Homo sapiens: one gene and its partner. The protein of the gene in region 2 purifies or fractionates together with the protein of the main gene of each other region. This does not show direct contact. Each region holds a gene or a part of one and is shown on either strand. Other genes may lie near its edges.

Evidence for each region.
Region 1: the proteins of MTRFR (region 2) and MYLK2 purify together in Homo sapiens (affinity purification with mass spectrometry; 3 studies listed by BioGRID and IntAct, with this or other methods). This does not show direct contact.

What each region holds. Positions count from the first base shown.
Region 1 is NC_000020.11:31,821,994-31,829,382, forward strand, and holds part of MYLK2 (myosin light chain kinase 2, skeletal/cardiac muscle), read left to right. Parts: intron 1-1,483; coding exon 1,484-1,589; intron 1,590-2,265; coding exon 2,266-2,359; intron 2,360-4,611; coding exon 4,612-4,721; intron 4,722-4,803; coding exon 4,804-4,945; intron 4,946-7,389. UniProt on the Homo sapiens protein: Implicated in the level of global muscle contraction and cardiac function. Phosphorylates a specific serine in the N-terminus of a myosin light chain.
Region 2 is NC_000012.12:123,236,167-123,243,555, reverse strand, and holds part of MTRFR (mitochondrial translation release factor in rescue), read right to left. Parts: intron 929-7,389; exon of another isoform or gene 522-928; intron 1-521. UniProt on the Homo sapiens protein: Part of a mitoribosome-associated quality control pathway that prevents aberrant translation by responding to interruptions during elongation.

The DNA of each region.
Region 1 (7,389 bases), on a different chromosome or scaffold from region 2:
TCCTCCCACCTTGGCCTCCCGAGTAGCTGGGACTACAGGCGTGTACAACCATACCTGGCTTTCTTCAATCTTATTTTTTAAGATGTATTTTTATTTTTAAATTTAGTATTCCCTTTTGATAGATGGGGAAAGGAAGGCTCAGAAAAAGGAAAATGAAGTGCCCAAACATATCCAGTGAAGACAGGATTTGAACCTGTCAGGCCACCCAGACTCCAGAACCCACTTTTGAGTTTTTTCTACTTTGACTAAAATGAAGTTAAAAAAAAGAAAAATCAGGCAGATTATTGGAGCAACACAAACTCCCTGGGCAATGGAATTTGGAGTCAATCTGTAGAAGGGCTCAAATGCCAGGCTTAGTAGCTAAACTGTATAGTGGGGTGGGGTCGTGGGAGCTATAGAGGGCTCATGCGCTGAGGAGCACAGGTGCCTGTGTGTGGGAGCAGTGACCAAGGAAGCTGGGCATGTGCAATGGGGCAGGACTGTGGAGTGGCCTTCATTGATGATTAGACAAGCAGCCCGTGGCTTGTTCATGGGCTGCAGAGAGCACTGAGTGTGAGTGAGCTTGGCCAGCAGGTGAATAGGGAAAGGGCCTGGGCAGGGGTGCGGCAGGGCTGGGGGTGGGGTGAGATGGGGTCAGGAGAACCCAGAGTGTCCTGACACCCCCCTGCCTCCAGGCTGAAGTGCCCTGGGAGACCCGCCAGCCTGCCTGGTGAGCGGCACCGTGCCACCCAGACAGGGTGGGAGGACCTGGCGGCTGGGCGGCAGCCAGGAGCCCTGCCTCCGCCCCTAGCAGCCGCAGAGACCTCCGCCCCGCCCCGAAATCGCATCCTAGAGTGACAGGATCTGAACCACCTCCAAAGGCCGTTTGATTTATCACCAGCCCGGCTTCCCTGCCGCCTCTTGCTATTTATAAAGAGGTTTCCATTCCTGATGACCGCCTGCCGGCCTGCCAGCCTTCAGGGCGAGCGGTTCCCCACACTTGCCGCTAGGTGGCGCCCTCTCCCCACCAAACAGCACGGTCCCCGGTCCCGCCCCGCCATGGGTGGTCTGGCCAGATTGCGGTGTTATTAGGATGGAGGGTGGGCAGGTCCCACCACCTACCCCATTATTCAGACATAGCAACCCCACTGCCTGGCATTCCGCTTTATAGCTGCTGTGTTTGATTGTTTTTGGTGGAAATGCAGATAGCTTGGGATGGAGTCCTTGTGTCTTATAATGCAGAGGGTCCAAAAAGTCCAAGCTCCCATCCCGTTTGTTCTGCCAGGAGAAGCTGGTCCTCCCTGATAGGAGTGTTGTGTTGGTGGCAGAACTGATATTGGAAACTGGGCCCCATAGCCCCTATCCTGGAGCCAGGTGTCCCCCAGGTATCACTTGGTGAACTTAACTTCCCTAGATGGGGCCCAGGCCAGCAGGAGGGGTGGTGCCAAGGGGAATCCTCAGCAGCCCCTGGCACTGACCATGAGGGCTGTGCTCTGTCCCCCAGATGATTGCCCGCCACCTCCGGCCCCCTTCCCTCACCGCATGGTGGAGCTGAGGACCGGGAATGTCAGCAGTGAATTCAGTATGAACTCCAAGGAGGCGCTCGGAGGGTGAGATCTGGGACCCCAGCTGGGCACTCATGGACAGAGAGTACACCGGGCTCCTGTGGCTTCACATTTCCCCTGTGCAAGGCCCAGACACACACCCCGCTGAGACATGGCCACATGGACATGTTCACCTCTGTGTGGGACACACACTGTGTGCAGCTGTCACATGCTGATGTGCACTCAGTGTTGCTGTCACTTACTCAGACGCACCGTCAGCCATTCAGTGCTTCCGTAGGAAATACACAGCATTTTTCTGTCTGTCTCAGCTCCAGGCACCACACTGACCCCCTCATGGTGATTCCTGCTTTGTAAAAAGCCCTGACTCAGTCTTATACCTCTGCAGATCCTCCCTCTGCCTGAAGGTGCCCTCCCCCAGGGCCCAGGGCCTGCCTGCCCTAAACCTCTAAGGGTCGCATCCCAGGGCCATCCTCCCTACACGCCTGCTCTTCCTGTGCACGTGGTCTGTGTGGTTCAAAGAACCTGCTTCAGCCATTGTCCTGGCAGAACAGCTCACAGCTTCAGGAGGGAGTCAGGGCTGGCTGGGGTGAGTGCTCCCATCTCACCAAAGGGGATCCAGAGGCACCACTGGGTCTGGGACCAAGTTAGGATCAGAGCAAAGGATGCCACTGACCCCGGTGGGCTCTGGGGTCCCCTCACTTACAGCCTCTTCTCTTTCCAGTGGCAAGTTTGGGGCAGTCTGTACCTGCATGGAGAAAGCCACAGGCCTCAAGCTGGCAGCCAAGGTCATCAAGAAACAGACTCCCAAAGACAAGGTAGTGAGGTTGCGGGGGTGGTGGCTGCCCAGGATGGGGAGGGGATCCTTGGAGTGGGCACCTCTCGCCTCCCTCCACCAGCGCTGCTGAACCTGGGGCCTGGTATGGGAGTTTGTTGCAGTGAAAATACTACACAGATAGAGAGATGGATGGACAGCCCTGCAGCAGGGGCCTGAGGACCCTACCCATAACCAGATACTTCAGTTAGTGAACTTATCTGGGGACTTCCCTTTTAGGCATGGGATATTCATGCCCTCTGGTTCAATTCAACAAACACTGATGAGTGTGGGCTCTGGGCCAGGCCCTGTGCTGGGCACTGGGGGTCTGGGAGTGAAGTGGGTGTGGTCTCCACCCTCAGGGAGCTGAAGCCAAGGTAAACAAGCCTGGCCTAGAGCTTTGCCTCTAGTACCCACGGCCTGGGCTGGGTTCAGAGGAGGCCACGAGCAGTGTTTGTTGAAGGAATGAAAGGATGCAGGCAGGTAGAGTGAGGGAGTCTGCTGTGTGAGGAGGTAATAGCAACCTCGTGTGACCACAGCTGTGACTCAGGGAAACTGCGGGGTAGCATTTTGGGGTTCAAGAGAGCTTCTGACTCAGGCCGAGGGGTCAGGGAAGCTTCCTGGACCAGCTGCCTTTTGAGCGAGGGCTTTGAGGAGACGTTCCAGTGGAGAAGGCAGGGGCAGAGTTTCAGGCAGAGGGGACTATGGGAGGAAAGGCTCGAGGGCCAGAGATAGCAGGAGGTGCTGGGGAGTGAGGTTCTGGGCATCCCAGGCAGAAGCCACAGTGTGGGCACAGGCCCGACCCCAGTGAAAGCGTGAGAAGCAGCTCTAGCCGCTGCAGCCCTGGGTCCCCATTATGGCTCTAAGCACACTGGAAGGAGTGCATTTTCTATGTGACAACGTCCTTTTTCGTCTCTTCCACTTACAGGGCCTGGGTCCGTGTTATTGTCTCCTAGGTCCCAGGCCTCTGTCACAGGCTCTGGCTCAGCATAGATGTTCAGTACCTACCTGCGGCTCAATTAACTGGGGCCAGTTTTCAGTTGATAATTATTGAGCACTTCTCTGCCATTCAGTGGGTCAGGGGCTGGGGAAATGTCAGTGACCTAAAAACACCCCTGCCCTCATGGGCTGACATGCTACAGTGGAGGGAGAGACAACTAAAACATAAAGCAAAAAGAAAAAAGAAAAGAAAAGAGAAGAAAAGAAGGCCTGGCATCAGGTACTGAGAAGTGCTAGGAGGGAAAATAAAGCCAGGTAAGGTAGAGGGGGTACAGGGCTGATGGGGGCGCTTTTAGATAGGGAGGTGAGATCAGTCCTCTCTGAGAAAGACATATGTGAGGTGAGAACTGAATGAAGGGGTGGGTAAAGGCAGAAGGGGAGCCATCCTGGCAGTGAAACAAGGGTTAGTGTTTAACCACTGGATCTGGGTAGGGCAGGTGTGGAGAGAGGCCCGATTTACAGCATTTGCCATTTCTCATGGTGTAAGTATTCCTATTATAGCCGATATATCAGCCTACCGATGTGACAGCTGGCTTGCGACTTTCTGAAAGTGACAAATAATGGTGTCTTAAACTAGGAAGGCAGTGGTGGAGGAGGTGCGAATGATTGGATGTATAATCTAGCTTGAAGGTAGATGATGCTGAAGAGTTGGGTCGGAGGTGGGGTGTGAGGGCGCGAGAGTAAGGGAAGAACTTAGGATGGCTCGTAACTTTTTGTCCTGCACCCTTGGGTGAAGCGTGGGGGTACTTTTGCTGCCAGGCAAGCCGAGAGCAACTCAATTGTGGGGAAGGGACGATGTCTAAGGTCTAATTTTGGACATGATAGATTTGAGATGTCTATTAGACAACTAAGGCAAGTAGACAGTTGGAGATATTGGAGTCTAGAATTCAATGGAGTGCTCAGAGGTTGAGATGTATATTTGGAAATTGATGACTTTGGATAAAATGTAAAGTCATGAGACTTTATGCAGATGCCCAGGGAGAGAGCAGAGAGAGGGAAGCGGTGAGGGGGGAGGATGGAGATCTTGGCATGTCAGTACTCAGGAGAAGAGCCGGCAAAAGGAAGATGTCCCAGCAGGCATGACTTGGGAGTGGTGAGGACCACAGATGTGGGGGTGGGGGAGAGAGGAGAGGCAAGGAGGAGGCTGAGCAGTGATCTGGGCAAGGCTAGCAGGCCTGTTCAAGGGTGCGGGTATGGAGGGTGGGTGGCAGGGAGTGATGGTGCCCAGCTGGTACCCTTGACTTCCCTGGTCCCCAGGAAATGGTGTTGCTGGAGATTGAGGTCATGAACCAGCTGAACCACCGCAATCTGATCCAGCTGTATGCAGCCATCGAGACTCCGCATGAGATCGTCCTGTTCATGGAGTAGTGAGTGCCCGAAGTAGTGGTAGGGGCTGGGTGGGGGTACCACCAGGCACGGAGCAAGCCGTGGAGGGGTCTGTGCACACAGCATCGAGGGCGGAGAGCTCTTCGAGAGGATTGTGGATGAGGACTACCATCTGACCGAGGTGGACACCATGGTGTTTGTCAGGCAGATCTGTGACGGGATCCTCTTCATGCACAAGATGAGGGTTTTGCACCTGGACCTCAAGGTACCAGACTGGGGCCTCCTGGGAAGGGTCAGGGGCAGCCTCCGACCCCCTGAGATCAGTGCTGTCACCAGCCATCCCTCTGCCCTCCCATCCCTCCATCTCTTCCTTCATCCATCCTTCCCTTCATAGATTCAGAAAGGGTTTATGGAATACTTACCAAGTGCCAGGAGCCGGGGGCACAGCAAAGAGAGAGAGGGGGGGAAAAAAAAAAGACGTGGTACCAGCTTTCATGGAACTTCTAGTCTAGTACTAAGTATTTGTTGAAAGGGCCTTTTGCAGTCCTGTGAGCCCCAAGCTCAGTGTGTCACACAGACAAGTGGCTAATAAGTGTTGCAATAGCACCTGCCTCAGCCTTGGCCCATGATAGGTACTAGGAGTGTCTGATCATTTATTCAAAAGCAACAAATATTTCTTGAGGGCCTACTTTATGCCAGGCAATGCTCTAGGTGGTGGAGATCCTGTGGTGAACCAAACAGATAAAAATCCCTGCATTCTTGGAGCTCTCAAATAAGTATAGTGTCAGCGTGGCAATGTGCATGAGGTAGGCGCTAACAACAATGTTTCGTGAAAGAATATTGATATCCTTCTTCTTTTTTTTGAGATAGAGTCTCACTCTGTTGCCCAGGCTGGAGTGCAGTGGCGCTATCTTGGCTCACTGCAACCTCCGCCTCCTGGGTTCAAGCGATTCTCCTGCCTCAGCCTCCCGAGTAGCTGGGATTACAGACACCTGCCACCACACCCAGCTAATTTTTGCAGTTTTAGTAGAGACAGGGTTTCACCATGTTGGCCAGGCTGATCTTGAACTCCAGACCTCAAGTGATCCGCCCACCTCGGCCTCCCAAAGTGCTGGGATTACAGACATGAGCCACTGTTCCCGGCCTGATATCCCTCTTCTGACCTTGCTCACTACCATGCACATGGTAGGTCAGGAAGAGCAGATCTGCTTTTTTTTTTTTTTTTTTTTTGAGACAGAAAGTCTTGGTCTGTTGGCCAGGCTGGAGTGCAGTGGTGTGATCTTGGCTTACTGCAACCTCTGTCTCCTGGGCTCAAGCAATTCTTTTGCCTCAGCCTCCCGAGTAGCTGGGATTACAGGCGTGTGCCACCATGCCCGGCTAATTTTTGTATTTTTAGTGGAGACGGGGTTTCGCCATGCTGGTCAGGCTGGTCTTGAACTCCTGACCTCAGGTGATCTGCCTGCCTCAGCCTCCCAAAGTGCTGGGATTACATGTGTGAGCCACCGTGCCTGGCCACAGATAGGTGTATACATTGCAGCAACTCCAGTCAGTTGTCCGTAGCTGTCCGGAGCTGAGTGTGGAGCTCTGGGTGTGGAGCAGGGAAGGGCAGCAGGAGTGCAGGGGGTTGGCAGTCCTCATGGCAGGTGTTAATGCTGTGCGTTAAGTGGCGGGACATGGAATCTTAATGTGGAGGCGCGTGAGCACCCATCAGCAAAGTGGATGGTACTTTCATTCATTCATTCCATAAGCATATGCTGGGTACTTTCCTTAATTCATTCGATAAGCACGTGCTGGGTACCTGCTCCTGGAAGGCCCCGTGCTAGGCATAGGGACTGTGAAGGAAATGGTCCCTGTCTCATGGAGCCTCCAGGGGAAACAGACATTCATAAAACAATTCCTAACTAAATAGGTCATTTTAAGCCATGAAAAGTGTTTGAGAAAATACACGAGAGTAATGCGGAATCGCACTGGGTGAAATTGAAGTCAGCACGGGTCTGAAGCAGGCAGGGAGATGCTGTTGCCGCCTCTAACACCTGTCCCAGTTTTGCTCTGTGCCCGACACTGTCTGAGTGAGGGTGCCATCTTCCCAACAGTCCCCTGGGTTAGGTGTGTTAATATCACTGCCACTGACAGAGGAGGACACAAACAGGGTGAGGAGGTGGGTTTCAGTGGGGCCAGAGTGGATGCAGGGAATTTAGAGGCTGATGGAGTAAGTAAGCCAGGAGAGAGATGCCAGGGGCTTGAGCCAGAGTGGCAGTGGGAGAGGGGAGGGAAAGGGGCCAGATGGAGGATACATTTTGGAAATAGAGCCAATCTGATGTGCTGAGGGTTTGCATGTGTGAGGGTTAGGAAAAGAAAGGATCAAGGGTGAGTCCTGAGTTACTGGACAGATGGTGGCCCCTTCACTGAGCTGGGGGCAGTTGGTGCCTGCATGATGACATTGGAAGACTGCCTTTCCCTAGTGAAGGCTAATTTCTTTGGGGCAGAATAGGGTCCCCCAATTAAAATGCAGTGCTCTGGGAAGAAGCTCAGTCGTGAGCCTCTGTATCCTAAAATGTGTTTTTTTCAGGATAATAATACGTTTTTTGTCAAAAAAAGTGTTTCACGGTCAAGTAGGTTGAGTGCACCCCAGCCCACAGGCCATGTCCTGGGTCTCTTGGCTGCAGGGCTTCTGAGGGCCTCCTGTGTGTAGATGGAGAATCTCTGAAA
Region 2 (7,389 bases):
TTTTTGTATTTTTTTTTTTTTTTTTTGAGACGGAGTCTCGCTCTGTCGCCCAGGCTGGAGCGCAGTGGTGTGATCTTGGCTCACTGCAAGCTCCGCCTCCCGGGTTCACGCCATTCTCCTGCCTCAGCCTCCCAAGTAGCTGGGACTACAGGCATCTGCCACCACGTCCGGCTAATTTTTTGTATTTTTAGTAGAGACGGGGTTTTGCCATGTTAGCCAGGCTGTTCTCGATTTCCTGACCTCGTGATCCGCCCGCCTCGGCCTCCCAAAGTGCTGGGATTACAGGCGTGAGCCATTGCGCCCAGCCAAAAAAAAAAAAATTGTTTTAAAAGATGGTATTGGCAAGATGCTCCATGACTGTGAAGGGATATACTTTGAAATGGAGTGTGCCAAGGAAAGTGGTGCTTTAAAAACTGGTTTTGTTTAATGTGTATGAAATGTGTATAAAATCAAATACCTTAGAAAAAGATAAATGATAAACCCAGGCACTTTCTCTGAACTCTCTCTAAGAATCACCTTACCTACGAAAGATTGAGTAGACTAAGTCAATGTCCAAAACTTATCTTTCCTTATTCCTGTTTTCAATCCACAAAACAAAATTCATTTGTGTATCAGGCAGCCTGTAGTCCCGGATTCAATTCATTATGGAACATGAGCCCCGCACTTCTGAGTTTCTCATCCGCTAGCTGGTAAATGTGACCAGGCAGGACAGCGCTGGCACAAACCAGTGCAGGGAAAAAGAGAGGAAGTGATTCCAAGGCAAGGCGAGACTCCCAGACAAAGGATGGAGATGAGAGTGCTTTTATCAGCTGCTTTGTCACCAGTCCACTGTTTGAATCTCTACCTTTCTGTCCTAGTTCAGAGCTGCCAGACACACTGGAAGGTCTCCCACCCAGCTGGAGTTCAAGAAGGTCTCCGGTGTTCAGTTACTGGCTGCTTTGTTTAACAGTTAATTCCAACAGCCAATCAGACAATTCTAGACACTTTTAGTATCTCCTGGAGCTTTGGCCCTACTCCAATGACTGCTAAAAATGACAAACACACCCATGGTTCCACTTCCCCAAAGGCCAAAAAAATACGAATTGGATTTCAGTGTTTGTGATACAGAGTAATCCAAAGTCTTTAGGGAACAATAAAAGCAGCTCAAATTATAGCTCATTGTGACATGAAAAAAGAGAAAAAGAAAAATGGTACAGAGAAGTGCTAGTAAGAGGAAACCAGCAGTCATGACAGCTCTGCCCCAGTTCCCTTCTTCAAACGTGAGCTTCGGCGTAGGGCTGGCGCTCTACCCTGACTCCCTAGGCTCTACTTTTCCTTTGATGATGGCTTCTGCACTAAATGGCTGATCGCAGTTAAGGTGAAAGCTCCTGTCATTGCTTCAGTCCCTTCCAACTTGGTTAAGTTCAGAGATAACAGGTCTAAGGAATTTACAAAAGGGAACATTAATTTGTGCAAGAATATTTAAAACATCTATTGAGTATCAGGCATGGGCTTCAGAGAGCCTAAAGAGTCTGTAGCATAAAAGAGAAATGAAGACAAGCACAAACAGGATACATGTGATAGCTGAGGATGGATAACATACTATAGAGCAGTGGTTCTCAAACTTTCTATGCCCCTCATCCTCCTGGAGAGCTTGCTGTCAGGATTTGAAACCTATGTGCTACTGAGTGGCGTTCTTCATGACTGGATCTGGTCAGCACACCCCTCCTCCAGCTTCCAAATTCAACTCAAACCAAGACAGACTATCTGCAGGGATGGCATGTTCAACTCTGCAACAAGGCCTGTGGCCGGAGCAAACAAGATAATAGCCTACAGTCCCAGCTACTTGGGAGGCTGAGGTGGGAGGATTGCTTGAGCCCAGAAGCTGTCTCCAGCCTGTGCAACATAGGGAGACCTCATCTCTAAAAAACAAAATAGGCTGGGCATGGTGGTTCGTGCCTGTAATCCCAGCACTTTGGGAGGCTGAAGTAGGTGGATCACCTGAGGTCAGGAATTCGAGACCATCCTGGCCAACATGGTGAAACCCCGTCTCTACTAAAAATACAAAAAATTAGCTGGGGGTGGTAGTGGGCACCTGTAGTCCCAGCTACTTGGGAGGACTGAGGCAGGAGAATTGCTTGAACCCGGGAGGCAGAGGTTGTAGTGAGCCGAGATCACGCCATTGCGCTCCAGCCTGGGCGAAGACTGAAGGAGCGAGACTCTGTCTCAAAAAACAACAACAACAAAAAACAGTAAAATAAAAAATACAATAAAAAATAAAATAATGCTGGGTGTGATGGCTCACACCTGAAATCCCAGCATATTGGGAGGCTGAGGTGGGAGGAGCCCATGAAGCTGGGAGTTCATGATCAGCTTGGGCAACATAGTGAGACTCCATCTCTTTTATTAAAAAAAAAACAAAAACAAAAAAAAAACAACCCCAAATAAAAGCCTAGATGTAGGAGGTGATGCTGTGTCATCAACAGCTCTCACTTTGGAGAGAAGTAAAGAGGATGGTAATGCCTTTCATTTCGTGTCTCTGAAAAGGTTAAAGGATATTTGAGGCTGGGTGTGGTGGCTCACACCTGTAATCCTAGCACTTTGGGAGGCTAAGGTGGGCAGATTACCTGAGGTCAGGAGTTCAAGACCAGTCTGGCCAACATGGTGAAATCCCATCTCTACTAAAAATACAAAAAATTAGCTGGGTGCAGTGGTGTGCTGAGGCTGAGGCAGGAGAATCGCTTCAACTCGGGAGTCGGAGGTTGTGGTGAGCCAAGATCACGCCACTGCACTCCAGCCTGGGGTACAGAGTGAGACTTTTTCTCAAAAAAAAAAAAAAAAAAAAAAAAGGTCAATAAAATAAAGGATATTTAATCTATTTTCAGGAAAGCATGAGATGTCAATCTCTGGACCTGCCTTCTGGACGCCATTTATCTAAAATTCACTGTTTGTTTTTTTTTTTTGAAAGGTAAAGCACTAGTTTACCTTAGCTACAACTTTCATGGTATATAAACCTTGCAGAAACTTCATTAAAACTAACTGAAGGAACAGGTGCGGAGACTAACTGAAACAGTGTGCTTTACGAAGATTGTTAAAGTACTCACCAGCCAGTCTCCCCATGCAAACTTTAATGTGCATACAAATCACCTGGGAGTCTTGTGACTTGTGATGCTGGTTCACTAGGTCTGGGGCGAGGCCTGAGGCTCTGCATTTCTTCTTCTTTTTTTTTTAGACGGAGTCTCCGTCACCCTGACTGCTCACTGCAACCTCCGCCTCCCGGGTTCTAGCAATTCTCCTGCCTCAGCATCCCAAGTAGCTGGGATTACAGGTGCCCACCACCACGTCCAGCTTTTTTTTTTTTTTTTTTGTATTTTTAATAGAGATGGGGTTTCACCGTGTTGGTCAGGGTGGTCTCGAACTCCTGACCTCAGATGATCCACAAGCCTCAGCCTCTCAAAGTGCTGGGATTACAGGCGTGAGCCACCTTGCCCGGCGAGGCTCTGCATTTCTAACCAGCTCACAGATGAGGCTGTTGCTGCTGGTCCAGGCCCCACACCCCATGGCAAGGCTAAGTGCTTTAAACAAGGATGCTGCTAGTATTCTGGCACATAGGACTGTTCATTGCTTGATGAGATCCCTGGGATCATGATGGCAATGGTGAAGGCTGAGAAGGTGTAAAGGAGTGTGATGGGAGGGCAAGGAAATCGTCCCAAGAAAAGAATTAAACAAATACTGATTTGAGCTAGCAGAGATGGTGACATGGAAACAAGGAGATTGGGAAACTGGGTCATCTGGGGGAAAAAAAAATAAAAAATGTCACCTCTGTTGTGTTAATGTTCTAGAACAGTGGTGTCCAATAGAAACTAACGCTACTGGGCTGGGCGCGGTAGCTCACGCCTGTAATCCCAGCACTTTGGGAGGCCAAGGCGGGCAGATCATGAGGTCAGGAGATCGAGACCATCCTGGCTAACACGGTGAAACCCCGTCTCTACTAAAAATACAAAAAATTAGCTGGGCATGGTTGCACGTAGCTGTAGTCCCAGCTACTTGGGAGGCTGAGGCAGGAGAATCGCTTGAACCTGGGAGGTGGAGATTGCGGTGAGCCGAGATTGCGCCATTGCACTCTAGCCTGGCAACAGAGTGAAACTCTGTCTCAAAAAAACAAACAAAAAAACAAAACTAATGCTACCCACATGTGAAATTCTAAATTTTCTAGTAGTTACATTAGAAATAATAAATGATGAAATGTATATTTAACCCAATATATCAAAACTATTATTTCCACACGTGATCAACGTTTTATTATTTTGAGACCAGTCTGGCTCCATCACCCAGGCTGGAGTATAGTGGCGCCATCTCAGCTCACTGCAATCTCTGCCTTCCAGGCTCTAGCCATCCTCTCACCGCAGCCTCCTGAGTAGTTGGAACTACAGGCATGTACCAGCATGCCTGGCTAATTTTTGGATTTTTTGTAGAGACGGGGTTTCACCATGTTGCTGTGGCTGGTCTGGAACTCAAACTCAAGCGATCTGCCTTCCTCAGCCTTCCAAAGTGCTGGGATTACAGGTGTGAGCCACTGCACCCAGCCAATATTTTAAAATTGAGATATTCTTTTTTCCCCCTAAATATGAAGGCTTCAAATTCTAGGTTATGGTCATACTTACAGAACATCTCAGTTTGGGCCACATGTGCTGGTGGCTACTTTATGGGACAATGTAGCTCTAGAATCTTGCTACCCAAAGTGTGGTCCACATAGTGGCAAAAGCACCACGTGGAGGATGGTTAGGAATGAAGATTTCAGGCCCTGCTCTGACCTACCAAATGAGAACCTGCAGCCTAACAAGATCCTCAGGTGATGCAGAGGCACATAAAATTTGACAAGCATTGTTCCAGAACACAGGAATCAGCAAGTTCTTCTGATTGCTAGGACAGACACTTTTAAAAGCTTTTCTTTTTCTTTTCTAAAAAAGTAGAGATGGGGTTTCATCATGTTGCCCAGTCTGGTCTCAAACTCCTGAGCTCAAGCAATCTGCCTGCCTCGGTCTCAAAAAGTGCTGGGATTACAGTCATGAGCCACCATGCCCAGCATGTTTCTTATTTATATGACATTTAAGAAACTGAGACAAGAATTCAGGAGGGCTGATTACCTGCTTATTCCGTCTTGTCTCTTCCTTAAGAAGGAGATGAAACCATAGGTCTCAAAACAATGACCTAATAAACAGTTAAGGGCCAAACAACATTGAGCTTAAACAGACCAACGTGCAATGTTGCTGCTTTGAAAAGACAAAACGGCCAGCAGGTGGTGCCAGAAGCTAAGTGAGGGGAAAATGATTTTCTGACAAATGCTTAATAATAATAATTCATGTTTCAAAAATGTGTTTTGGGGCTGGGTGTGGTGGCTCATGACTGTAATCCTAGCACTTTGGGAGGCTGAGGGTGGATTGCCTGAGCTCAGGAGTTCCAGACCAGCCTGGGCAACATGGTGAAACCCCCTCTGTACTAAAATACAAAAAATTAGCCAGATGTGGTGGTGTGCACCTGTAGTCCCGGCTACTCGGGAGGCTGCAGCAGAATAATGGATTCAACCTGGCAGGCAGAGGTTGCAGTGGGCTGAGGTCACACCACTGCACTCCACCCTGGGTGACAGAGTGAGACTCCGTCTCAAAAAAAAAAAAAGTGTTTTGGTGCTGTCTGTAAAATGGTAGTTAAAAAGAAAGTAGCATTTCCCTGTCTTTCACATCCTCCTGTTAGCTCATCCTCCTGCTGTAGGTATCTGAAATCCTTAAGGGCTGAAACCTCTCAAATGGAACCAGTGAGTATTGCTGGTAAGGCTTGAAACAGACCATGCCATTTCCTAGACTTGGGGTTTTACGCTGAAGATAAAGCACCCTTCACTCACAGTAAGTGTTTGCAGATAGTTATTTCTCAAACAAGGAAAGCATAATAGATTGAGCAGGAAATGCAGAGCTGTAGTCTTTGATTTTGGCGGACGGGAGGAAAAAGAGACTACTCTAGGTCTGGTCTAAATTTAACAGGCTTAATGCTTGAATGCTTAATGCTGCAGAATTCAAGAGATAGCTAATGAAGTAAAGAGGAAAACATTCACTTCACACAATCCCAACATCTCGTTCATTTTTATTTTATTTTTGAGCCGGAGTTTCGCTTGTCACCCAGGCTAGAGTGCAATGGCGTGATCTTGGCTCACTGCAACCTCTGCCTCCCAGGTTCAAGTGATTCTCCTGTCTCAGCCTCCTGAGTATCTGGGACTACAGGCACCTGCCATCATGCCCGGCTAATTTTGTATTTTTAGTAGAGGCGGGGGTTTCTCCTGACATCAGGTGATGCGCCTGCCTTGGCCTCCCGTAGTCCTGGGATTACAGGCGTGAGCCACAGTGCCTGGCCCCGTTTATTTTTTTTTAAGCAGAAAACTTTGAATCCACAGAATTACACCTGTGCTATTTGTGTGTATCATATTTCTTCTATTTTTTTTTTTAGCCGGAGTCTCACTCTGTCACCCAGCCTGGACTGCAGTGGCGCAATCTCAGCTCACTGCAACCTCCGCCTTCCAGATTCAAGCAATTCTCCTGCCTCAGCCTCCCAAGTAGCTGGGACTACAGGCGCATGCCGCCACGCTTGGCTAATTTTTTGTATTTTTAGTAGAGATGGGGATTCACCGTGTTTCTCAGGCTGGTGTTGAACTCCTGACCTCAGGCGATCCGCCCGCCTCGGCCTCTCAAAGTGCTGAGAGGTGTGAGCCACCGCGCCCGGCCCCATATTTGTTCTATTTATGGCATCTAACGGGAACTTTATAATTTATCAACTACACTATTAAAACAGAAACACATTAAAAAAGCAGGAATAACAACACTGTATATTTTCTTCCAAAAGTCTCAAAGCCTATATTTCTATTAACGATGCCTTGTGTTTGTTTAGGACTTAAACATATACAAACCAAAGCAGTTTCTTCTTCTTTTTTTTTTTTTTGAGACAGGGTCTCCCTCTGTCACCCAAGTGGAGTGCAGTGGCATAAAAATGGCTCAGTGCAGCCTTGACCTCCTGGGCTCAAGCAAGCTTCTTTGCCTCAGCCTCCCCAGTAGCTGGGGCCACAGGTGTGTACCACCATACCTGGCTAGTTTTTAATTTTTTGTAGAGATGGGGTCTTGCCATGTTGCCCAGGCAGGTCTCGAACTCATGGGCTCAAGCAATCCTCCTGCCTCAGCCTCCCAAAGTGATGGGATTACAGGCGTGAGCCACCACGTGCAGCTGCAAAGCACTTTCAAATACATTATTGTATTTAATACAAATAAAGAAAATAAGAGATGCACACTTCCTGATTATCTCAGTAAGACCTATCTTGGAAACCATTAGGTTTTCAATTTTTGAAACTAAATTATCCTTTCTACACCTTGT